3 separate regions of the Homo sapiens genome follow, and regions 1 and 3 are each linked to region 2. The links come from fine-mapping of genetic effects on plasma protein levels. A gene starts in region 2. Each other region holds a variant in brackets. All regions are shown on one strand. Distances are between the middles of the regions.

The links. PIP is the posterior inclusion probability: the model's chance that the variant is causal. The UK Biobank Pharma Proteomics Project read protein levels with antibody pairs (Olink). The fine-mapping took linkage between variants from a reference panel, not from the people measured, so its PIPs are less certain.
Region 1: its variant is fine-mapped to the plasma level of the PRDX2 protein (UK Biobank, PIP above 0.99).
Region 3: its variant is fine-mapped to the plasma level of the PRDX2 protein (UK Biobank, PIP above 0.99).

What each region holds. Positions count from the first base shown.
Region 1 is chr19:12,675,256-12,683,499 of GRCh38, reverse strand. It overlaps WDR83 (WD repeat domain 83), which reads right to left. Exons shown (of 11, transcript NM_001099737.3): 11 at 7,668-7,977. The coding sequence ends at 7,828. DHPS (deoxyhypusine synthase) reads left to right here and starts at 1,620. Exons shown (of 9, transcript NM_001930.4): 1 at 1,620-1,940; 2 at 3,175-3,339; 3 at 3,578-3,699; 4 at 3,781-3,877; 5 at 3,957-4,043; 6 at 6,104-6,209; 7 at 6,289-6,392; 8 at 7,358-7,483; 9 at 7,567-7,783. The coding sequence starts at 1,734. The coding sequence ends at 7,662. RefSeq lists enhancers at 1-399, 923-1,445, 1,511-1,805, 1,446-1,969, 7,044-7,093 and cis regulatory regions at 1,329-1,863, 1,889-2,389. The variant TTG/G (reference allele first, on the strand shown) is at 779.
Region 2 is chr19:12,794,500-12,802,499 of GRCh38, reverse strand. PRDX2 (peroxiredoxin 2) reads left to right here and starts at 700. Exons shown (of 6, transcript NM_005809.6): 1 at 700-760; 2 at 1,230-1,341; 3 at 1,431-1,584; 4 at 2,201-2,323; 5 at 2,511-2,641; 6 at 5,334-5,677. The coding sequence starts at 1,239. The coding sequence ends at 5,419. It overlaps THSD8 (thrombospondin type 1 domain containing 8), which reads right to left and starts at 431. Exons shown (of 2, transcript NM_001386800.1): 1 at 281-431. The coding sequence starts at 428. RefSeq lists silencers at 353-742, 752-937, a cis regulatory region at 340-889 and enhancers at 537-1,095, 1,423-1,622, 5,872-6,281.
Region 3 is chr19:12,518,434-12,526,697 of GRCh38, reverse strand. ZNF564 (zinc finger protein 564) reads left to right here. Exons shown (of 4, transcript NM_144976.4): 4 at 1-1,325. The coding sequence ends at 252. Among named protein-coding and RNA genes, the nearest start is that of ZNF564, 29 kb to the left of the region's middle. RefSeq lists a silencer at 4,369-4,663. The variant G/C (reference allele first, on the strand shown) is at 4,498.

The DNA.
Region 1 (8,244 bases), 120 kb after region 2:
GAGTCCGGGAGTCAGAGGTTGCAGTGGGCCGAGATCGCGTCACAGCACTCCAGCCTGGCGACAGAGTGAGACCCTATCAAAAAATAGCAGCAGGCCAGGCGCGGTGGCTCATGCCTGTAATCCCAGCACTTTGGGAGGCTGAGGCGGGCGGATCACGAGGTCAGGAGATCGAGACTACCCTGGCTAACACGGTGAAACCCCGTCTCTACTAAAAATACAAAATATTAGCCGGGCGTGGTGGCCGGCGCCTGTAGTCCCAGTTACTGGGGAGGCTGAGGCAGAAGAATGGCGTGAACCTGGGAGGCGGAGGTTGCAGTGAGCCGAGATCGTGCCACTGCACTCCAGCCTGGGAGACAGCGCAAGACTCTAGCTCAAACAAACAAACAAACAAAACAGCAACAACAACAACAAAACCATCCTCCCCTCCCGAGGGGACAGAACAGAAACGAATGGGCGAGTGCCGGGCCAAGCAGTGGGTCTCCAGCAGGTGGCATTAAAATAGGAATTTTGGCTGGGGACGGTGGCTCACACCTGTAATCTCAGCACTTTGGAAAGCCCAGGCGGGCGGTCACCTGAGGGCAGAACCAGCCTCGCCAACATGGTGAAATGCCATCTCTACTAAAAATAAAAAATTAGCCAGGCCTGGTGGTGGGTGTCTGTAATCCCAGCAACTCGGGAGGCTGAGGCAGGAGAATCGCTTGAACCAGGGGGGCAGAGGTTGCAATGAGTCAAGATTGCACCACCGCACTCCAGCCTGCGTAACAAGAGCGTGTAACTC[TTG/G]TCTCAAAAATAAATTAAATAAATAAATAATAAAAATAAAAAAGAATCTTCATTCATGGGAAGTCGAGAACACATGAAAACAAGTAAAGGCCGAAGCGCAGTGGCTCACGCCTGTAATCCCAGCACTTTGGGAGGCTGAGGCGGGCGGATAACCTGAGGTCGGAAGTTCGAGACCAGCCTGACCAACAGGGAGAAACCCCGCCTCTACTAAAAATACAAAATTAGCCGGGCATGGCGGTGCATGCCAGTAGTCCCAGCTACTCGGGAGGCTGAGGCAGGAGAATCGCTTGAACCCGGAATGTGGAGGTTGTGGTGAGCTGAGATCGGGCAATTGCACTCCAGCCTGGGCAACAAGAGCGAAACCCTGTATCAAAAAAAAAAAAAAGAAAAAAAAAGGAAGAAAAGGCCTAAAGGCGCCGGGCGCGGTGGGTCACGCCTGTAATCCCAGCACTTTGGGAGGCCGAGGCGGGCGAATCACGAGGTCAGGAGATCGAGACCAGGTGAAACCCCGTCTCTACTAAAAATACAAAAAAATTAGCCGGGCGTGGTGGTGGGCGCCTGTAGTCCCAGCTACTCGGGAGGCTGAGGCAGGAGAACAGCGTGAACCCGGAAAGCGGAGCTGGCAGTGAGCTGAGATCGCGCCACTGCACTCCAGCCTGGGTGACAGAGCGAGACTCCGTCTCAAAAAAAAAAAAAAAAAAAAAAAGAAAGAAAGGGCCTAAAGGCTCCTCGCGGCTTCCGTATTACGGAACACACGCACAAAAATGGCGGCGACCTGGTTTACAGGGGCTAAAAATGGTCACGTGATAAACCAACTTCCGGTCTTTCGCCCAAAGCACGTTCCCTACTTCCTGTGCTCTTGCGGAGACGCGCGCGTCGGGGTTTAACGCGTTTCTGGGCCGCCGTAAGCCCGGCCTAGGGGCAGCTTTGACTCGAGAGCCGGCTATAGGCGCATGGAAGGTTCCCTGGAACGGGAGGCGCCAGCGGGGGCGCTGGCCGCCGTGCTAAAGCACAGCTCGACGTTGCCGCCCGAAAGCACCCAGGTCCGGGGCTACGACTTCAACCGCGGTGTGAATTACCGCGCACTGCTGGAGGCCTTCGGCACCACCGGCTTCCAAGCAACCAACTTCGGGCGCGCTGTACAGCAAGTCAATGCCATGGTGAGGACCGGGCGGAATTTCTAGGGACGCGGAGGGGCGTGGCTTGTAGAACCAACGCGGTACTAGACGGGGGCAGCGTTTCCAGTGGAGGGGATATGTCTTTTATTTGAGTTGCCCAATAGTTGGAGGAAGGCGGGACCTATTCTGGGCGGGAGTTTCTGTCCTGGGAAGGGGATTTTGCACTCTGGTAGTTACATGCTGGTACGGTAACCTGAGGAGGCGAGGACTGATTCTTGGTGTGGGGGCGGGTTCTAGGTACATTTAAAGCTTTCTGGAATGGGCGGAGCCTGGGGCAAGACAAATTAAGGGAGGATATGGGAGGAGGAGCCTAAGTCTGGGCGGTTCTTGAATTTAGATTTGCTTTTCCCAGCGGGGAAGGGACCGGATCTGAAAGGAGATGCTCTCTGATTCCTAAAAGGGTGGGGGCTGGCTGGGCGCGGTGGCGCATGCCTATAATCCCAGCATTTTGGGAAGCCGAGGCGGGTGGATCAAGAGAAGAGGAGTTCGAGACAAGCCTGGCCAACATGGTGAAACCCTGTCTCTACTAAAATGCAAAAAATTAGCCGGGCATGGTGTTGCGCGCCTGTAGTCCCAGCTACTCGGGAGGCTGAGGCAGGAGAATCGCTTGAACCCGCGAGGTGGAGGTTGCAGTGAGCTGAGATTGCGCCACTGCACTCCAGCCTGGTGACAGAGCGATACTCTGTCTCAAAAAAAAAAAAAAAAAAAGGCCGGGCACGGTGGCTCATGCCTGTAATCTCAGCATTTTGGGAGGCCGAGGCGGGCGGATCACCTGAGGTCGGGAGTTCGAGACCAGCCTGACCAACATGGAGAAACCCCGTCTCTACTAAAATGCAAAAAATTAGCCGGGCATGGTGGTGCGCGCCTGTAGTCCCAGCTACTCGGGAGGCTGAGGCAGGAGAATCGCTTGAACCCGGGAGGTGGAGCTTGCAGTGAGCCGAGATCGCGCCATTGCACTCTAGCCTGGGTAACAAGAGTGAAACTCCGTCCAAAAAAAAAAAAAAAAGGGTGGGGGCAAATCCTGAACGTGTGTCTTGAGATCTGGTCTGGGAAGGGGCAGAGTTTACACAGGAGATGTTCCTTGGTCCCCTGTAGAACTGGTCCTGTATCCCTGAATGTGCAGGGCCTGGGGTGAAATCTGTTTCTGGAGCCCACCTGGAGTCCTGAGTCTGGGATTTAAGGCCAGTGCTTAACTTGACTTGGCCCTTACTCACAGATCGAGAAGAAGCTGGAACCACTGTCACAGGATGAAGACCAGCACGCGGACCTGACCCAGAGCCGCCGCCCACTTACCAGCTGCACCATTTTCCTGGGATATACATCCAACCTCATCAGTTCAGGCATCCGTGAGACCATTCGCTACCTTGTGCAGCACAACATGGTGGGGACCTGGTGAGGCCGTGGCCTTGGCCTCTGGGTCAATGGGCAATGCAGTTATTGATCGTTTAAGTGAGATGGGCAGATAGGGGTCTGTTATAAGCAGAGGAATAGAATCAAGTTTTGTTTTGTAGCAGAGCTCCCTCATAAGAGTCACTGGACAAGGATGAGGTTAGAAGTTCTGCCCAGAATGAGGGCAGGGGCTTCCTTCTTGGGCCAAATTCACTGCCTTGTGGCTGCAGGTGGACGTATTGGTGACCACAGCTGGCGGCGTGGAGGAAGACCTCATCAAGTGCCTGGCGCCCACATACTTGGGCGAGTTTAGCCTCAGGGGGAAGGAGCTCCGGGAGAACGGGATCAATAGGTGAGAACCCTGAGTGGTGTTGGGCAGGGGAGCTGGACCAAGGGTCCTGGGGCCTGATGCCTACATGCCTCCTGTTCTCAGGATCGGAAACCTGCTGGTGCCCAATGAGAATTACTGCAAGTTTGAGGACTGGCTGATGCCCATTCTGGACCAGATGGTGATGGAGCAGAACACAGAGGTGGGGCTGGGGCAACCTGGAGGGGCCAGTTCAGTGGGAGTCAGGGGAGGCATGGCCTGAAGGTCACATCCTCTCCTAGGGTGTAAAGTGGACGCCTTCTAAGATGATCGCCCGGCTGGGCAAGGAGATCAACAACCCAGAGTCCGTGTATTACTGGGCCCAGAAGGTGAGGACCTAAGCGGGAGCAAAGTAGCCAGACTTTGGCATGTGTTAACTTATTTCATCTTTCCAGCCTCCTGGGGATTCAGTACTGTTATTCTCAGCATCCTCACTCTTAGATGAGGAGACTCAAACACAGATAGGCGTGGTAATTTTTTTTTTTTTTGAGACAGGATCTTGCTCTGTCACCTAGGCTGGAGTGCAGTGGTGTGATCACAGCTCATTGCAGCCTCAACCTCCTGGGGCCAAGCAGTCCTCCCACCTCAGCCTCTCGAGTAGCTGGGACCACAGGCACATGCCATCATGCCCAGCTAATTTTAAAAATTTTTTGTAGAGATGGGGGTCTCCCTGTGTTTCCCAGGCTGGTCTTGAACTCCTGGCGTCAGGCAGTCCTCCCACCTTGGCCTCCCAAAGTGCTGGGATTACAGGCGTGAGCCACTGTGCCCAGCCAGGCTAGGTAATTTTGTCTGAAGTCACACAGATAACTAGTGGGGCCTCAGCATCCTTATGCTCCTCCCAGACTATCTCTGGAACAGTAGAGGCAACACTTAGCAACTCTCCTGGGGCCTGGCTCAGGGTCCCACACTCCCAGATGCTATAAAATAAGAGCTACCCACTCCCTTTAATTAGAGAATCAGAACCTGAAAAAAAAAAAAAAAAAGCTACATAGTCTTTTTTTTTTTTTTTTTTTTTTTGAGACAGAGTCTTGCTCTGTCGCCCAGGCTGGAGTGTAATGGTGTGATTTCAGCTCACTGCACCCTCCACCTCCCAGGTTCAAGTGATTCTCCCGCCTCACCCTCCTGAGTAGCTGGGACTATAGGCACCCACCATCATGCCCGGCCAATTTTTGTATTTTTCTACAGATGGGGTTTCACCATGTTGGCCAGGCTGGTCTTGAACTCCTGACCTCAAGTGATCCACCCGCCTTGGCCTCCCAAAGTGCTGGGATTACAGGGGTGAGCCACCACACCCAGCCTACTTACTCTTTCTTTTTTACGAGACAGGGTCTCATTCTGTTTCCCAGGCTGGAGTGCAATGGCACAATAATGGCTCACTGCTGTCTTGAGCTTCTGGGCTCAGTCGATTCTCCTGCCTCAGCCTGCTGAGTAGCTGGGACTACAGGTGCGTGCCACCATGCCTGGCTAATTGTTTTTGTAGAGATGGGAACTCACCATGTTGCACAAGCTGGCTCTTTTTTTTTTTTTGAGACGGAGTTTTGCTCTTGTTACCCAGGCCAGAGTCCAATGGCGCAATCTTGGCTCACAGCAACCTCTACCTCCTGGGTTCAAGCAATTCTCCTGCCTCAGCATCAAGTTCCCAAGTAGCTGGGATTATAGGCATGTGCCACCACCCCTGGCTAATTTTGTATTTTTAGTAGAGGCAGGGTTTCTCCATGTTGGTCAGGCTGGTGTCGAGCTCCTGACCTCAGGTGATCCACCCGCCTCGGCCTCCCAAAGTGCTGGGATTACAAGCGTGAGCCACCGCGCCCGGCCACAAGCTGGCTCTTTAAAAAAGAATTAGACGGCCGGGCACGGTGGCTCATGCTTGTAATCCCAGTACTTTGGGGGCTGAGGCGGGTGGATCACCTGAAGTCAGGAGTTCAAGACCAGCCTGGCCAACATGGTGGAACCCTGTCTCTACTAAAAAAACAAAATGCAAAATTAGCTGGGCATAGTGGCATGCGCCTGTAATCCTAGCTACTCGGGAGGCTGAAGCAGGAGAATCACTGGAACCCAGGAGGCAGAGGTTGCAGTGAGCTGAGATAGTGCCATTGCACTCCAGCCTGGGCAACGAGTGAAACTCCGTCTCAGGGAATAAAAAAAAAGAGAGAGAAACAGCTCAGCAAGCTAAGAATAGGCTGGTTCTTTATGTGCCAGGCACTATACTAAGTGTTTTCTGTGGGTTTTCTCATATAGGCCTCATCTGTGAGAGGTGTTTCTGTTATGCTTATAATTGAGGAAACAGTCCTAGAGAAATTAGGCACCCCATCCACAGTCAGATAGTCATATAGCCAGCATGGAGACGAGGCTCTGAGCTCCAGCCACTGTCCTGTCATGTTCTCTGCAGAACCACATCCCTGTGTTTAGTCCCGCACTTACAGACGGCTCGCTGGGCGACATGATCTTCTTCCATTCCTACAAGAACCCGGGCCTGGTCCTGGACATCGTTGAGGGTGAGGCGCTAGGGCCACAGAGGAGAGGGGAAGGAGGGCTGGCTGAGTCCAAGGCCTGACTTCGGCGCTCTTCCCCCAGACCTGAGGCTCATCAACACACAGGCCATCTTTGCCAAGTGCACTGGGATGATCATTCTGGGCGGGGGCGTGGTCAAGCACCACATTGCCAATGCCAACCTCATGGTGAGTGGGGGTGGCGCTTCGGCCCACTCTGCAGACATGCTGTGTGGTGGGCCTATGCCATGTGCTGGGTAGACAGCATGAACTAGACAGGCCAGGATCCCTGCTCCCCGGGACTGATGTTCTAGTAGGGGAGATAGCAAACAAGTGACATCCACGTCAGGGGGCAGTCATTGCTACGGGGAATACTAAATGATGGCATGAGAAGAGAAAGGGGTGCTGTCCAACAAGAGGTTTTGGAAGGAGGCTTCTGGAAGTGTGAGCTGGGAGCAGGGGTTTGGGGAGGCATCTCCCAGGAGCTATGTGGTTGTCTCCCGTGCCAGGAGTTTGTGCTGCTGTACTAGCATTGAGCTTCTGGATTGCAAAGTTCCCAGGAGAGGGAACAGCCATTGCAAAGGCTCTGGGGCGCCTGAAGTAATCCAGGAACAGCTGGGTACCTGGTGAGGGGAAGGTGGAGTGGTGAGGGCCAGGAGGTGATGCAGGGAGGTGCCACAGGGAGCCTGCTGGGCCCTGTGGGCTGAGGCGGGGCTTTGGCTTTTGCACTGAGAGAAGTGGGAGAGGACTTGACTCGGGTTCCCATGCTCCCCCTGGTGGCCATGTGGTGAACAGATGGTGGCAGGTGAGTGAGAACTCCAGTCCAGGACAGTGGTGACCATGCAGGGATCAGGAGGCAGGCGGTGGTTGGATTTGGAGGGCTTCTGAAGATAGAGTTGCTGGCAGCTCCTGCCTTGCAGATGGGGCAGGGTTGTTGACACCTGGCTGTTGGGTCTGGGGAAACACAGCCATCGTTGCCCAGCAGCTCTAGTGACCCCAGACATTGACATGGGCCCTGTCTGGGAGCGAATGTCTGTGAAGGGCTTCCTTCATCTGGGACACACCTCTCAGCCTGTTTGGCTACGGTGTCCTCCCTCTGTGTCTGTCTCCTGTGACTGGCTGACTGGGCCCACCGTGCCCCCGCCTCCCCACAGCGGAACGGGGCCGACTACGCTGTTTACATCAACACAGCCCAGGAGTTTGATGGCTCTGACTCAGGTGCCCGACCAGACGAGGCTGTCTCCTGGGGCAAGATCCGGGTGGATGCACAGCCCGTCAAGGTAAGCGCTGGCTGGGTGGGGCATAGGGTCTCTGGGACGATGAGTGTGGGTCCCATGGCTTACCCAGGTTCCCCCCTACCCAGGTCTATGCTGACGCCTCCCTGGTCTTCCCCCTGCTTGTGGCTGAAACCTTTGCCCAGAAGATGGATGCCTTCATGCATGAGAAGAACGAGGACTGAGCGGCTGCGGTCCCAGGAAGGTCTTACCCCCTCTTCTATTTATTAATTTGCAGACCCAGCCCCTCCCCTACTTTTTGGTCAGCTACGTCTCTAGAATAAGATGGTATCTGAAGTCCTTCCATGTCTGTGTCTCGGTCCTTGGTCCTGTTGGTGGGTCCCCTGGCTTCAGCCTGCTCCATCCTCTGCCTCATAGGCCTCCTCTCGCCAGCACTGGACGCTGCCTCCCATGGCGGTCAGCAGGCAGGGCTCTGTTGGGTGGTAGGCCAGCGACTGCACCACACCGGAACCCACAGGCAGGGCCAGAGCCAGCGCACCCTGTGGAGCGAGGGGTAGGGAGTGGTTATCTGTGGCTGGGCTGTACCCTGGTTTCTGAGGTCCCTGGGCACCCCCCATCTCAGTCCTGCCTGAAGCCCTCAGTCACCTCTCCCCGACCTTCAGCCACCTGCCTCTAATTGCCTCCTAGACACTGCAAAATTAATCTACCTCAGACTGAGCCCCTCAGTAGCTCTGTCCTACCAGGTGTTCAGGCCGCAAGTCTTGGGAGCCTCTTATTGATTTTTTATTTTTTAAAATAGCAGAGAT
Region 2 (8,000 bases):
TCTCTGTCTCTGCCCTTCCTGGCACCTATCCCCGAGTGACAGCTTCAGTGTCCTGCCCACACCCTCTCTTCCCCTGGGAGCTGCTTTAAAGCAGTATCTATTTCAATATATCCAAGAGTAAACCGAGCCTTAGAGAAAAGTAACCAGCCCAAGGGGACGCCTCCAGTGCGGAGCTGGGTGGAGATTTGCAGCCCGCCGAGGAAGGTCCCTTTGCAGCCAGCAGGAGAAGTAGGGCAACGGGGAGCCTTTGGGCATCGTCATCCCCGCCGCCTGAGGTTACCCTTTAGATGCTGCAGCCTCAGCTGCTCCCAGCTGTCACCTTCGCCCTGCTGCCCTAAGTACTGATAGTCCTGGTAGACCAGGGCAGGGGTCGCCAGCTGCAGGAGTAGCAGAGGCGCCAGCAGCAGCGCCCCCGGGGTCCGCGCCATGCTGGACTCCAACGGCCCCCAACGCGCTCCCAGGCGGAGTCGTGCGCGGAGTCTGCGGCGGGCGCATTACCCACGCGGGCAGGTGCAGTGGTCCCGGCCGAAGGCAACGCGTCTCCCCCCGCCGCCCGCAGGCGCATGGACCCGGCCGCACGCTCCCCCGCACCTGCGGGCGCAGTGGACCCGACCGCTCCGCTCGTCCGCTCCCTCCCCCGCGCCGTGCACGTCTTGGTTCGGGCCGGGCATAAAAGGCTTCGCGGCCCAGGGCTCACTTGGCGCTGAGAACGCGGGTCCACGCGTGTGATCGTCCGTGCGTCTAGCCTTTGCCCACGCAGGTATGAACACCCGGAGTGCACCTGGCGGGAGGACCCCCTTCAGGCTGCTTTGGCCCGATCCTGACTTTAGTGCTGGCCGCCTTTGCTTTCCATCCGCTATAGTGGCCTCCTTTGTCCTTGCGGGGGAAACCGAGGCCACAGCCTTGCAGCGCAGGCCTGATCGCCCGACTTCCCGCCCCCTGCTCGTGCGGGCCTCACTGTCTCCTTCTGGGCTGGGGGCTTGCGACACCGCCCTCCGGCCGACTCGCTCGTGGGGTGCTGGTGGCAGTGGCTGGGTCACTCGTGCTCTGGTCAGGAGAGCGGGTCTCCGGCAGCCTCCGGGCCTCGTAGACCGGGTACCCGGGAGGGTGAGGGTTAGTGCTGTCGCCTCCGCCGTGCTGACTCAGTCATAGGGCCCAGCACGCAGCGCGACCTTGGGTTGGGAGGACAAAGTGTCTTCCCGGGCGCACTGACCGGGCGGGGGTCTCAGCTTTCAGTCATGGCCTCCGGTAACGCGCGCATCGGAAAGCCAGCCCCTGACTTCAAGGCCACAGCGGTGGTTGATGGCGCCTTCAAAGAGGTGAAGCTGTCGGACTACAAAGGTGAGCGCCGCCCGGAGGGGGCCCAGGTAGAAGCGGGGCCGTGCATGAGAGAAGCTGGGCCCTAACTCCTCTGTGTCCCTCCTCCCCAGGGAAGTACGTGGTCCTCTTTTTCTACCCTCTGGACTTCACTTTTGTGTGCCCCACCGAGATCATCGCGTTCAGCAACCGTGCAGAGGACTTCCGCAAGCTGGGCTGTGAAGTGCTGGGCGTCTCGGTGGACTCTCAGTTCACCCACCTGGCTTGGTATGAGCAGGGGCCAAAGAGGGAGGTTGCAGCTAAGCTCACACCCTCAGGTCCTAGCAGTGTGGCTTCGTGGCCATTGCTCAACCTCTGGAACCTGCGTTTCCCCATCGTGAAAATAATGGAAACATTGCCGCCCAAGTCTTTAAGGATGATGACAGTAATTAGCATTTGACAACTAGTTGCCTGGTATATAGAGTTGCAGATGCAACTCAGATGCAACTCTATCTACTCTATGTACTTAGTTCCCAGGAGGGAGGCTGTGCTGCCCTATTTCATGAAGATGGAAACTCCAGTTCACCGAAGTGAAGGGCTGTACCCCATGACACAGCTAGAGGAGGATGGGGACTCTTAACACAGGCTCTCTGCTGGGTGATGCTGCAAGTTACAAGTACATGTGAAGCCACTTAGCTGGAGCTGTGCCTCTCAAACTCAGTCTTCCCAGCCATGGGGATACAGTCCTTGCACCCAACCCAGGGTGGGGTGGGTGAGGCTCCCAGCGGCCTACTCTAAAGCCCCTTATCTCCGGCCTCCAGTGCTTATCACATTGGGCCCACAGGGTGAGGACCCTGCTGTGCCAGGCATCCTGAGGCCCCAACTCTGTCTCCCCTACTCCCAGGATCAACACCCCCCGGAAAGAGGGAGGCTTGGGCCCCCTGAACATCCCCCTGCTTGCTGACGTGACCAGACGCTTGTCTGAGGATTACGGCGTGCTGAAAACAGATGAGGGCATTGCCTACAGGTACTGTGGGACCCTCAGCCCGGCTCAGGGAGCGCCCTGCCCCCCATTCCTGTGATGCTGGGACCACTCCTGTACAATGTCTTCTCTGCCCCCAGCCCTGTGGCTAGCAGCGGGTGGTTGGTAGTCCCTTCCTTGTCTCTGGCAGTGGGAGCTATCAGCTCCTCACTGGGAACCCTGATGTCTTCAGGGGCCTCTTTATCATCGATGGCAAGGGTGTCCTTCGCCAGATCACTGTTAATGATTTGCCTGTGGGACGCTCCGTGGATGAGGCTCTGCGGCTGGTCCAGGCCTTCCAGTACACAGACGAGCATGGGGAAGGTGAGCAGATACACACATGACACATGGGTACATACTGAGCGCCTCCGTCACTCATGCAAACATTCACTGCCTGTCCTCTTACCTGTCCAGATGGGTGTTAGGGCCCCAAAGAAGATTCAGCTCAGGGCTTTGTCTGCAGGATGTTTCTAATGTGGTAGGAGACAAATAACGCCTGACATTCAACCAAGGTGGACAAAGGGGCCGGGCTCAGTGGCTCACGGTTGTATTGCCAGCACTTTGGGAAGCTGTGGCAGGTGGATCACCTGAGGTCAGGAGTTCGAGACCAGCCTGACCAACATGGTGAAACCCCGTCTCTACGAAGAACACAAAAAATTAGCTGGCCGTGGTGGTGCACACTTGTAATCCCAGCTACTTGAGAGACTGAGGCAGGAGTTCGCTTGAACCCAGGAGGCAGAGGTTGCAGTGAGCTGAGATCGCACCGTTGTACTCCAGCTTGGGCAACAGAGCAAAACTCAGTCTCAAAAAAAAAAAAAATTAGCTTGGTTTGTGAAGCATGCCTATAGTCCCAGCTACTCAAGAGGCTGAGGCTGGAGGATCACTTGAGCCTGGGAGGTCAAGGCTGCAGTAAGCTGTGATCGCACCACTGCACTCCAGCCTGGGTGACACAGCAAGACCCTGTCTCAAAAAAACAAACAAACAGGCCGAGCGCGGTGGCTCACGCCTGTAATCCCAGCACTTTGGGAGGCCGAGGCGGGCAGATCATGAGGTCAGGAGTTTGAGACCAGCCTGGCCAACATAGTGAAACCGCGTCTCTGCTAAAAATACAAAAAAATTAGCTGGGTGCGGTGGCAGGTGCCTGTAATCCCAGCTACTTGGGAGGCTGAGGCAGGAGACTCCCTTGAACCCGGGAGGAGGTTGCAGTAAGCCGAGATCACACCACTGCACTCCAGCCTGGGCGCCAGTGTGAGACTCCATCTCAAAAACAACAACAACAAAAAAACCTGTAGGGGTGGGGCAGAGGGACAAAGATGGGACTAAAGGAGCCAAAAAGACAGGAAGATGCTGTGTCTCATGCCTGTAGATGCTGTGTCTCATGCCTGTAGTTCCACCTACTCTGGAGAGTGAGGCAGAAGATTGCTTAGGCCCAGGAATTTGAGTCGAGCCTAGGCAACATAGCAATACCCCATCTCTTTTTTTTTTTTTTTAAGAGATGGGGTATTGGTTAAAAAAAAAAAAAAAAAAAAAGAGGCCAGATGCAGTGGCTCACACCTGTAATCCCAGCATTTTGGGAGGCCTAGGTGGGTGGATCACCTGAGGTCGGGAGTTCGAGACAAGCTTGACCGACATGGAGAAACCCAGTCTCTACTAAAAATACAAAATTAGCCCAGCCTGGTGGTGCATGCCTGTAATCCCAGCTACTTGGGAGGCTGAGGCAAGAGAATCGTTTGAAGCTGAGAGGCGGAGGTTGCAGTGAGCTGAGATCGTGCCATTGCACTCCAGCCTGGGCAACGAGTGAAGCGAAACTCCGTCTCAAAAAATAAAAAAAAAAAAGAGGCCGGGCACGGTGGCTCATGCCTGTAATCCCACCACTTTGGGAGGCTGAGGCGGGCGGATCAAGAGGTCAGGAGATCGAGACCATCCTAGCTAACGCGGTGAAACCCTGTCTCTACTAAAAATACAAAAAAATTAGTCGGGCGTGGTGGCGGGCGCCTGTAGTCCCAGCTACTCTGGCGGCTGAGGTAGGAGAATGGCGTGAACCTGGGAGGCGGAGCTTGCAGTGAGCAGAGATCGTGCCACTGCACTCCAGCCTGGGCAACAGAGCAAGACTCCATCTTAAAAAAAAAGAAAAGAAAAAAAGAAGAAAAAGGAGAGCTGGGTGGCAAAAAGAAATTGAAGAATTAAGAGTAGGAAAAACACCAGCTAGAAAATACTGAACTTGGCCAGGTGTAGTGGCTCACGCCTGTAATCCTAGCATTTTGGGAGGCCAAGGTGGGTGGATCACCTGAAGTCAGGAGTTCGAGATCAGCCTGACCAATATGGTGAAACCCTGTCTCTGCTAAAAGTACCAAAAAATTAGCAGGGTGTGGTGGCGGGCACTTGTAGTCCCAGCTACTCAGGAGGCTAAGGCAGGAGAATCACTTGAACGCGGGAGGCAGAGGTTGCAATGAGCCGAGATCACGCCATTGCACTCCAGCCTGGGCAACAGAGGAGGACTCTGTCTCAAAAAAAAAAAAAAAAAAAGAAAGAAAGAAAAAAGAAGAAAAGAAAAAGAGAAAATACTGAACTTGGCTAGGCATGGTGGCTCACACCTGTAATCCCAGCACTTTGGGAGGCCAAGACGGGCAGATGACTTGAGGTCAGGAGTTCGAGACAAGCGTGACTAACATGGTCTCTACCAAAAATACAAAAATTAGCCAGGCGTGGTGGTGCACCTCTGTAATTCCAGCTAGGGAGTCTGGGGCATGAGAATCGCTTGAACCCAGGAGGGAGAGGTTGCATGAGCTCAGATCATGCTACTGTACTTCAGCCTGGGCAACAGAGCAAGACTCTGTCTGAAAAAAAAAAAAAAGAAAAAATACTGAACTGGGCTTGGAGGGTTTATCTTAATATCCACATTCCTGGGCCTGGACCACTTGCTTCCAGCATTTTCTTCTGCAACACAGGCCCTTGCTTTGCTTCACCTTGAACCTGGGGCTGTAGCCTTCATGTGCATCCTTGTGTCTTCCCACAGTTTGTCCCGCTGGCTGGAAGCCTGGCAGTGACACGATTAAGCCCAACGTGGATGACAGCAAGGAATATTTCTCCAAACACAATTAGGCTGGCTAACGGATAGTGAGCTTGTGCCCCTGCCTAGGTGCCTGTGCTGGGTGTCCACCTGTGCCCCCACCTGGGTGCCCTATGCTGACCCAGGAAAGGCCAGACCTGCCCCTCCAAACTCCACAGTATGGGACCCTGGAGGGCTAGGCCAAGGCCTTCTCATGCCTCCACCTAGAAGCTGAATAGTGACGCCCTCCCCCAAGCCCACCCAGCCGCACACAGGCCTAGAGGTAACCAATAAAGTATTAGGGAAAGGTGTGAGTCTGTGTTGGTGTGCTCTGTCCTTTCGTCCTCCCCTGCAACCCCCTTCCTTCTTCAGGCTCAGGCTTGGGAAACTGACCCTGTGGTTGCTCATCTTCGCCACACGGTGGCGGTCTTATCACATGCTTAGTGCCTGCTCTTTTCCTGCTTGCGCTCAAGGCGGTTTCGGAGGGGTAGGGTATGCCGTTTGTCCCTTGCAAATCCCAGGATGCCCTACATCCAGAAATCTGGCCATGCAAGGCAAAGCCCACATTTTGTCACCAGCCAGCCTGGGTTCAAATGCCGTTTAAGAGCTGTGATCGTCTCTGGGTCTCTTCAGCAGTAAAATGGGACTGCAAACCCAGATCACCATGCACGTGGTAAAATTTGTAGGAGATAAGTTATGTGAAGCTCGGGGCTGAGGCCCCTGTGTAGGGCCCAGTTCCTAGTTCCTAAGACGGCTTCCTCGAGCTGAAAGGAACCCAGCCCAGTGTAGTCTTATGGGGAAGAGGGTGGGGACCCAGTCTTAAGAGCAGAACCAAGAATGAGAGCCTGAGCTACGTGCAGAGTGCAGAGTCCCTGCTGTGAGCTCTGCCCCACCCCAGGCTGGAAAGGTTGCCTGTCTGCCCCTGGGGTGGGAGGGTGGCAGTTAGGCTAGAAGGCAGGTATTAGCAGCAAGGCAGGGTTCCCAGGGGTGCAGTTTAATATTGTGTGCGTTCAGGAAAGTAGTTTTGCTACTCTATGCCCCAATTTCCTCCTACAGAACAGGGCTAATATGCTCATTTAATCCACAGATCCACTATTAATGCTGGTACCCACCTAATACCCTCTAAGGGTCACTCATCTCCCTTGGAATTTAATCTACACTCCTCCCCAAGGCCCCTGCTCAGTCTCCCTTGACATCTGCCCTGTTGTGGTTCACTCCATTCCAGACAGGCTGGCTTCCTGCTGTTCTTTCACAGGCTCACCTGGCTACATGAATTTTGCCATTTAAGAGCTGCTCCCAAGGCCGGGCGCAGTGGCTCACGCCTGTAATCCCAGCACTTTGGGAGGCCGAGACGGGCGGATCACGAGGTCAGGACATCGAGACCATCCTGGCTAATACAGTGAAACCCCCTCTCTACTAAAAATACAAAAAATTAGCCAGGCATGTTGGCAGGTGCCTGTAGTCCCAGCTACTTGGGAGGCTGAGGCAGGAGAATGGCGTGAACCCGGGAGGCAGAGCTTGCAGTGAGCCGAGATCGTGCCACTGCACTCTAGCCTGGGCAACAGAGCGAGACTCCGTCTCAAAAAAAAAAAAAAAAAAAGCTGCTCCCAGTTGAGCGGGGTGGCTCAGGCCTGTAATCCCAGCACTTTGGGAGGCCCAGGCAGGCGGATCACCTGAGGTCAGGGGTTCGAGACCAGCCTGGCCAACATGGTGAAACCCTGTTTCTACTAAAAATACAAAAATTAGCCTGGCATGGTGATGCACGCCTGTAGACCCAGCTACTTGGGAGGCCAAGCAGGAGAATCGCTTGAATCCTGTGGGTGGAGGTTGCGGTAAACTGAGATCGAGCCACTGCACTCCAGCCTGCCTGGGTGACAGAGGGAGACTCCATCTAAAAAACACAAACAAACAAACAAAAAACTGTTACCTCTGATGCTGTTGTTACCCAGGATTTTCTCAGGACCCCACTTCTTCAAATCTGTTGAAAAGTCATGGCCAGGCACGATGGCTCACGCCTGTAATCCCAGCATTTTGGAGGCCGAGGCTGGCAGATGACCTCAAGTCAGGAGTTCAAGACCAGCCTGGCCAACGTGCTGATACCCAGTCTCTACTAAAGATACAAAATTAGCAGGGCGTGGTGGCAGGCACCTATAATCCTAGCTACTTGGGAGGCTGAGGCAGGAAAATCGCTTGAACCCGAAAGGCAGAGGTTGCAGTGAACCAAGATCGCACCACTGCACTCAAGTCTGGGTGACAGAGCAAGAATCTGTCTAAAAAAAAAAAAAAAAAGTCACTGCAGGAGAAGAGCACTGGCTCACGCCTGGAATCCCAGTGCTTTGAAAGGCCAAGGCGGGAGGACTGTTTGACCCAGCAGTTCCAGACCAGCCAGGGCAACATAGCAGACCCCATCTCTACAAAAATAAACAAAATTAGCCAGGCATAGTGGTGTATGCCTGTAGCTCTAGCTAGTTGGGAAGTTGAAGTGGAAGGCTTGCTTGAGCACAGAAGGTCTAGGCTGCAGTTAGCTATGATTGCACCACTGCGCTCCAACCTGAGCAACAGGACAAAGACCCGTCTCTAAAATATAAAAAAGAAAAAGTCACCCTATTAAAGGTCCATGTTCCCACTCCATTC
Region 3 (8,264 bases), 280 kb after region 2:
CATACTGGAGAAAAACCCTATGAATGTAAAGAATGTGGGAAAGCATTCAATTATGCCAGTTCCATTAGAATACATGAAAGAACTCATACCGGAGAAAAACCCTATGAATGTAAGCAATGTGGAAAAACGTTCAGTTATTCCAGTTCCTTTCAAAGACATGAAAGAGCTCATAATGGAGATAAACCTTACGTAAAGAATGTGGGAAAGCTTTCATTTATCACACAACCTTCGAATACCTGTGAAAATGAATAGTGGAGGACAGGTCTACAAGTATCTACATATCTAAAGAATATGGAAAGTCTTCAGTTTGCTTTCTGGGTTTCAGACTTGTTTGGGAGCTCACCCCTTTCTCCTGTTTCTCACTTTTGGAATAGGAATCTCTATCCTGTGCCTGTCTCATATTTTGGAAATACATGACTAGTTTGGTTTTCACCGGTTCGGAGCTGAAGAAGAATTTTGCCTCAGCATGAATTGAGTCTCATCCATATCTGAGTGATGTGATATTGAGATGACACTTTGGAGTTTGAGTTTAAACATTAGGCTTCATGCTGGAATTAACTGAGACTTTTGAGGCCTTTGGGATGAGATGAATATATTTTACATGTGATGACATGGATTTTGGGGGCCAGAGGTGTAATGTTTTGGCTGAGTGTATGCCACCTCAGATTCATATGTTGAAACCTTACCCCCGTGCCCCCCCTCTCCCCCACAATGTGATGGTATTTGGAGGCCCTGTCTCTGGTGGTTTTTAGGATTGGAGGACATCATGAAGATGGAGGCCTTGTAATTGGGATTAGTTTCCTGATAGGAATCCCTAGAGAGCTAGCTTTGCCCTTCACCATGAGAGGGTGCAGTGAGAAGATAGCTATCTTTGAACCGGGAAGCAGGCCCTTACCAGACATGGACTATGCCAGTGCCTTGATATTGGACTTCCCAGCCTCCCAAACCATGAGAAATAAATGTTTGTTGATTAATTAAGCTTTCCAATTTATGGTATTTTGTTTTAGCAACCCAAGCTAAGACACAATCCAATTTTAAAATGGAGGAAAGGACTTGAATAGACATTTCTCCAAAGAAGATACCCAGATGGCCAATAAGCACGTAACAATGCTCGACATCTTTAGTCATTAGGGAAATACAAATCAAACTCAAGACATACATAGCATCTCATTAGGATTAGTAGTATCAAAGATGGAAAACAAGAAATACTGTCAAGGATGTGGAATGTTGGAGAACATTGTGCACTATCACTGGGAATGTACAGTGGTATAAGCCTGCTGAAAACAGTATGGCAGATCCCCAGATTAAAATATAGAAATAACATATGATCAGCATTTCCATTTCTGGGAAAATAAAAAGATTGAAAGCAGGGCCGGGCGTGGTGGATCACGCTTGTAATCCCAGCACTTTGGGAGGCCGAAGCAGGCGGATCACAAGGTCAGGAGATTGAGACCATCCTGGCTAACATGATGAAACCCCGTCTCTACTAAAAAAAAATTAGCCGGGCGTGGTGGCAGGCGCCTGTAGTCCCAACTGCTCGGGAGGCTGAGGCAGGAGAATGGCATGAACCCGGGAGGCAGAGCTTGCAGTGAGCTGAGGTCGCGCCACTGCACTCCAGCCTGGGTGAGAGAGCAAGACTCCGTCTCAAAAAACAAAACAAAACAAAAAAGATTGAAAGCAAAGTCTCAAATAGGTTTTGTACACCTGTGTACATAGCATCATTCACAATAGGTAAACTCTGGAAACTACTCAGGTTTTCATCAACAGATGAATAAACAAAAGGAAGTTTATACATACAAGAGAATATTACTGAGTCTTACAAAGTAAGGAAATTTACAAATATGCTGCAAGATGAACCTTGACGTGCTAAGTGAAATGGGCCATTCATGTAAAGACAATACGGTATGATTCTACTTATATCAGGTATCTAGAGTAGTCATATTGATAGAAAAAGTACAATACCATTTGCCAAAGGTTAGGGAAATTGGGTAATGGATAGTTATTTCATGGGCATAGAGTTTCAATTTTGCAAGATAAAAAGGGTTCCAGAGGTGGATGGTGGTGATGGTTGCACACTAGTATGAATGTTCTTAATGGCACTGAACTGTACACTTAAAATTGATTATGATGGTGAATTTTATGTATGTTTTACACACAAAAAAGGGAGAAAAGACCACAGTACTGCATAGACCTTGTGGGACCTTCAGCATACCAAGACACTCTAGGTCTCTCTTTTTTTTTTTTGAGATAGGGTCTTGCTCTGTCGCCCAAGCTGGAGTGCAGTGGTGAGATCTTGGCTCACTGCACCCTCTGCCTCCCAGATTCAAAGGCTTCTCATGCTTCAGCCTCTTGAGTAGCTGGGATTACAGGTGCGCACCACCACACCCAGCTAATTTTTGTATTTTTAGTAGAAACGGGATTTCGCCATGTTGGCCAGGCTGGTCTTGAACTCCTGATCTCAAGTGATCTGTCCGCCTCGGCCTCCGATAGTGCTGGGGTTACAGGCGTGAGCCACTGCGCCTAGTCTCTAGGTCTCTTTCCTACTTGTTCTCAGCACTGTTTTTTTCGTTTTTCTATCCATGAGGGACCTGTTCCTACACAGTCCATTTGGATTTTAGTAGGCATTTAGATTTGATCCCCAGGATTGACTTCCCTGTCTCCTCCCCCCTTCACTGTAGACCTGGACCTCACTCCCAGACCCAGGGCCTATGATAACCACTTCCCTTTATTGAAGAGGGATACTTTTAATTTCCTCTGCACACTATTCACAGACATGTATATCAAATATATATCTGATAATTTAAGCAAATAGAAATTCTTTGCTCGGAAATCTTTAAGAATATGAGAAGAAATAGCAGCATATAGTGTCCAGAAAAGGTGGGAGAGAACTTCTTAGGTATGGAAAGTTTATGTAATAGGTAATGTGTAACTATTTACCACTAATTCTGTACCTGGGGTAAAGGTGGTGTTCAAGAAATGGAGAGCCAGGCCTGGTGTGGTGGCTTATGTCTGTAATCCCAGCACTTTGGGAGTCCGAGGCAGGCAGATCACTTAAGGCCAGGAGTTCGAGACCAGCCTCGCCAACACAGCGAAACCCTATTTCCACTAAAAACAGAAAAATTAGCTGGGTGTGGTGGTGCACACCTGTAATCCCAGCTACTTGGGAGGCTGAGGCAAGATAATTGCTTGAACCTGGGAGGCAGAGGTTACAGTGAGCTGAGATCACGCCACTGCACTCCAGCCTAGGTGACAGAGCCAGACTCCATCTCAAAAAAAAAAAAAAAAAAAAGCAGTGGATAAATAAGTCACTGCTTGCACAATAAAGAAATAAATGGGCCAGGCACAGTGGCTCATGTCTGTAATCCAGCACTTTGGGAGGGTAAGGCGGATGGATCACGAGGTCAGGAGTTTGAGACCAGCCTGGCCATCATGGTGAAACCCCAACTCTACTAAAAATACGAAAAATTAGCCATGCATGGTGGCTGACGCCTGTAATCCCAGCTACTCAGGAGGCTGAGGCAGGAGAATTGCTTGAACCCAGCAGGCGGAGGTTGCAGTGAGCCAAGATTGCACCACTGCACTCTAGCCTGGGCGACAGAGTGGGACCCCATCGCAAAAAAAAAAAAAAAAACAAAAAACAACTCTGCAAGGAAATGAAGCAAGTGATCCCTCTTGGAGTGGATTTCATGAAGTACCTTTAAATGGCAGAACATCAGGTTTCCATTTCCAAAATTATTTTTCTTCATGCTCTGACTGAAATAGTGACTGGTGTTGGAGAAACGGGTGGAAGATAGCGTAATAAACCAAATTGTTCTTTCTAGTGGGGAAAGCATGAATCACCCAAAACTAATAATCACGGAATTTACTTACATGGTATGGAAGAATAAGCAACCATAGAAGAAATCAGAATAGTTGTCACAGAACTAATTTACAAGCATTAGTGCTGTTTCCCAGGCCAGGTTCTATCTTGTTCTCAAGGAATAGTTACATCTTCAGTGTAAATTATGGGTACCATTGAGAGAAGTTTTACTTTCTACTTTATGAAAATGATGATGATGACAATAATACCGCAACATGAGTACTGCTAATGGAAACACTTTATGCCCAGGCACAGTGGCTCACGCCTGTAATCCCAGTACTTTGGGAGGCCGAGGTGTGCAGATAGCTTGAGGTCAGGAGTTCAAGACCAGCCTGGCCTACGTGGTGAAACCCCGTCTCTTATTAAAAATATAAAAATCAGCCGGGTGTGGTGGTACACGCCTGTAATTCCAGCTACTCGGGAGGCTGAGACAGGAGAATCGCCTGAACCTGGGAAGCGGAGATTGCAGTGAGCTGAGATCATGCCACCGCACTTCAATCTGTGTGACAGAGTGAGACCCTGTCTCAAACAAAACAAAGCAAAACAAAACGCTTCAGACAGAATTACTGTCAAGCACGTCACGATGCACCTTCTGTGGGTTATCTTACTACATTTTACCTGTCTACTGATGCCCCAGC[G/C]TGGCCACAGCCTGAACTGCAGCACCTTCCTGCAGATACCCCTTTTTTAGTGAACAAGTAAATGCTGCTTCTAGTCCCCTTGGTACTAGGTCTGTGCAGAGCACAGAGAAAGATGAATCCAGCCAGAGACTGCCCCAGAGTAACTCCCAGAGGTGGAATGAGTGAGATAATGCTGGGATTGAGATGTTTGATGTAATCTCATGTCTGTTTTTGCTTTTGCTGCCCGTGTGTTTGAGTTCTTATCCACAAAGTCCTTGCACAGACAAGGTCATGTAGAATTTTACTGTTTTCCTTTAGTAGTTTTACAGTTTCAAGTCTTACATGTAAGTCCGTAATCCATTTTGAGTGGATTTTTGTATATGGTGAAAGATAGGGGTCCAGTTTCAATGTTCTGCATGTTGATAATCCAGTTTTCCCATCACCATTCATTGAAGAGACTGTCCTTTCTCCAGTCTGTGTTTTTGGCACCTTTGTCAAAAATCGTTGGTAAGTGTGTGAATTTATTTCTGGTTTCTCTATTCTGTTCCACTGGTCTGTCTATGTTTATGCCAGTACGGTGCTTTTTTGGTTACTTTAGATTTGTAGTCTATTGTGAAGTCATACTCAAGATTGCTTTGGCTATTTTTGTGGTTCCATATGAATTTTAGGATAATTTTTTCGATTTCTGTGAAGTATGGCTCTTGTATTTTGATAGGGATCACACTTGAATCTGCAAATTGCTTTGGGTGGTATGGACATTTGAAGAATATTCTAAGCTGGGCATGGTGGCTCACATCTGTATTCCCAGCACTTTGGCAGGCAGAGGCAGAAGGATCACTTGAGCCCAGTAGTTTGAGACTAGCCCAGGAAACAGTGAGACCTCGTCTCTACAACAAATTTTTAAAAAATTAGCTGGGCGTGGTGGTGTGTGCCTGTAGTCCCAGCTGAGGCAGGAAGGTTACTTGAGCCCGGAACATCAAGGCTGCAGTAAGCTGTGATCACAGCACTGCACTCCAACCTGGGGTGACAGAGTGAGACTCTGTCTCAAAACAAAAAAAAAAAAAAGAAAAGAAAAATATTAATTCTTTCAGTCCATGAACACAGAATATCCTCCTATTTATTTGTGTCCTCTTCAATTTATTTCACCGGCATTTTATAGTTTTTATTGTAGAGCTCTTTCACCTCTTTGGTTATATTTATTCCTAAATATTTTATTTTTGTAGCTATCATCTATGGAATTGGTTTCTTGATGCCTTTTTCTAATAGTTTGCTGTTGGCATATAGAAACACTACTGAATTTTTTTTTTTTTTTTTTTTTTTGAGACAGAGTCTCGCTCTCTTGCCCAGGCTAGAGTGCAGTGGCACGATCTCGGCTCACTGCAACCTCTGCCTCCCAAGTTCAAGCGATTCTCCTGCCTCAGCCTCCCGAGTAGCTGGGACTACAGGCATCTGCCACCATGCCTGGCTAATTTTTTTTTTTTTTATATATTTTTAGTAGAGATGGGGTTTCACCATATTGGCCAGGCTGGGGCCACTACTGATTTTTATATGTTGATTTTCATATCCTTCAACTTTGCTGCATTTGTTTTAGTTCTAACAATTTTTTGGTGGTGTCTTTAGGGTTTTCTTTTTTCTTTTTCTTTTTTTTTTTTGAGACAGAGTCTCGCTCTGTTGCCAGGCTGGAGTGCAGTGGCACGATCTTGGCTCACTGCAGCCTCCGCCTGTCAGGTTCAAGCAATTCTCCCGCCTCAGCCTCCTGAGTAGCTGGGATTACAGGCGTCTGCCACCACGCCCAGCTAATTTTTGTATTTTTAGTAGAGACGGGGGTTTCACCATGTTGGTCAGGCTGGTCTTGAACCCCTGACCTTGTGATTCACCCGCCTCAGCCTCCCAAACTGCTGGGATTACAGGCGTGAGCCACCGTGCCCGGCAAGGTTTTCTATATATACAATCTTGTCCGCAAAAATGTAATTTTACTTCTTCTTTTCCAATTTGGTTGGCTTTTCTCCTTCCTTCCCTCCCTTCCTTTGTTGTTCTTTTTTGTCTAATAATTCTGATGAGGGCTTCCAATACAACATTGACTAGAAGTGGTGGGAGTGCTTATCTTATTCCAGATCTTAGAGAAAAAGCATTCCATTTTTTTCCTGTTCAGTATGATGTTTGCCGTAGGTTTGTCATATAAAGCTTTCATTGTGTTGAGATATGTTCCTTCTATACCTAATTTGTTGTGAGTTTTTTTTGTTTTGTTTTGCTTTGTTTTGTTTGAGACGGAGTCTCACTCTGTCGCCAGGCTGGAGTGCAGTGGCACGATCTCAATTCACTGCATCCTCTGCTTCCTGGGTTCAAGTGATCCTCCTGCCTCAGCCTCCCGAGTTGCTGGGACTACAGGCATGTGCCACCACGCCCAGCTAATTTTTTGTATTTTTAGTAGAGATGGGGTTTCACCATGCTGGCCAGGATGGTCTCGATCTCTTGACCTCATGATCCCGCCTCGGCTTCCCACAGTGCTGGGTTTACAGGCATAAGCCACTGCGCCCGGCCCTGTTGTGAGTTTTTATCATGAATATATGGAATGTTATCAAGTCATTTTCTGCATATATTGAAATGATATTTTTTTCTTGTTGATTCTGTTACTGTGATGTATCACGTTTATTGGTTTCCATATGTTGAACTATCCCTACACCCATGGGATACATCCTACTTGGTCAGGGTGAATGGTCTGTTCAATGTGCTGTTGAATTCAGTTTGCATGTATTTTGTTGAGGATTTTTACATCTATGTTAATCAGGGATGTTGGCCTGTACTTTTTAGTTGTGTTTGTTTGGTAGAATTCAGCAGTGAAGCCATCAGGTCCTGGGCTTTTCTTTGATGGGACACTTTTTATTACTGATTTAACCTCATTACTTCTTATTAGTCTGTTCAGATTTTCTATTTCTTCACGACGCAATTTTGATAGGTTGTACGTGCCCAGGAATTTATCTATTTCTTCTAGGTTTTCCAATTCATTGGTGTGTAGTTGTTCATAATAGTCTGTTTTATAATTCTTTCTATTTCTTTAGTATAAGTTGGAATGACCCTGTTTTTTTTGTTGTTTTGTTGTTGTTTTGAGACAGTCTTGTTCTGTCGTCCAGGCTGGAGTGCAGTGGTGCGATCTCCGCTCACTGCAACCTCCCCGTCCCGTGTTCAAGTGATTCTCCTGTCTCAGCTTCCTGAGTAGCTGGGATTACAGGCATGCGCCACCATGCCCAGCTAATTTTTTGTATTTTTAGTAGAGACGGGGTTTTACCATGTTGGCCAGGCTTGTCTTGAACTCCTGACCTCAAGTGATCCTCCTTCCTCAGCCTTCCAAAGTGCTGGGATCATAGGCGTGAGCCACCACACCCAGCCAACTCCTTTTTTTTCTTTTTCTTTTCTTTTCTTTTTTTTTTTTTTGAGATGAAGTCTCGCTCTTGTCTCCCAGGCTGGAGTGCAATGGCACGATCTCAGCTCACTGTCACCTCTGCCTCCCCAGTTGAAGCGATTCTCCTGCCTCAGACTCCCGAGTAGCTGGGATTACAGGTGCCCGCCACCAAGCCCAGCTAATTTTTGTATTTTTAGTAGAGACGGGGTTCACCATGTTGGCCAGGCTGGTCTCGAACTCCTGACCTCAGGTGATCCACCCGCCTGGCCTCCCAAAGTGCTGGGATTATAGGTGTGAGCCACCATGCCCGGCCAACTCCTTTTTTTTCACATCTGAATTTCTTTATTTGAATCTGCTATTTTTATCTAGTGAGTCAGGCTAGAGCTTT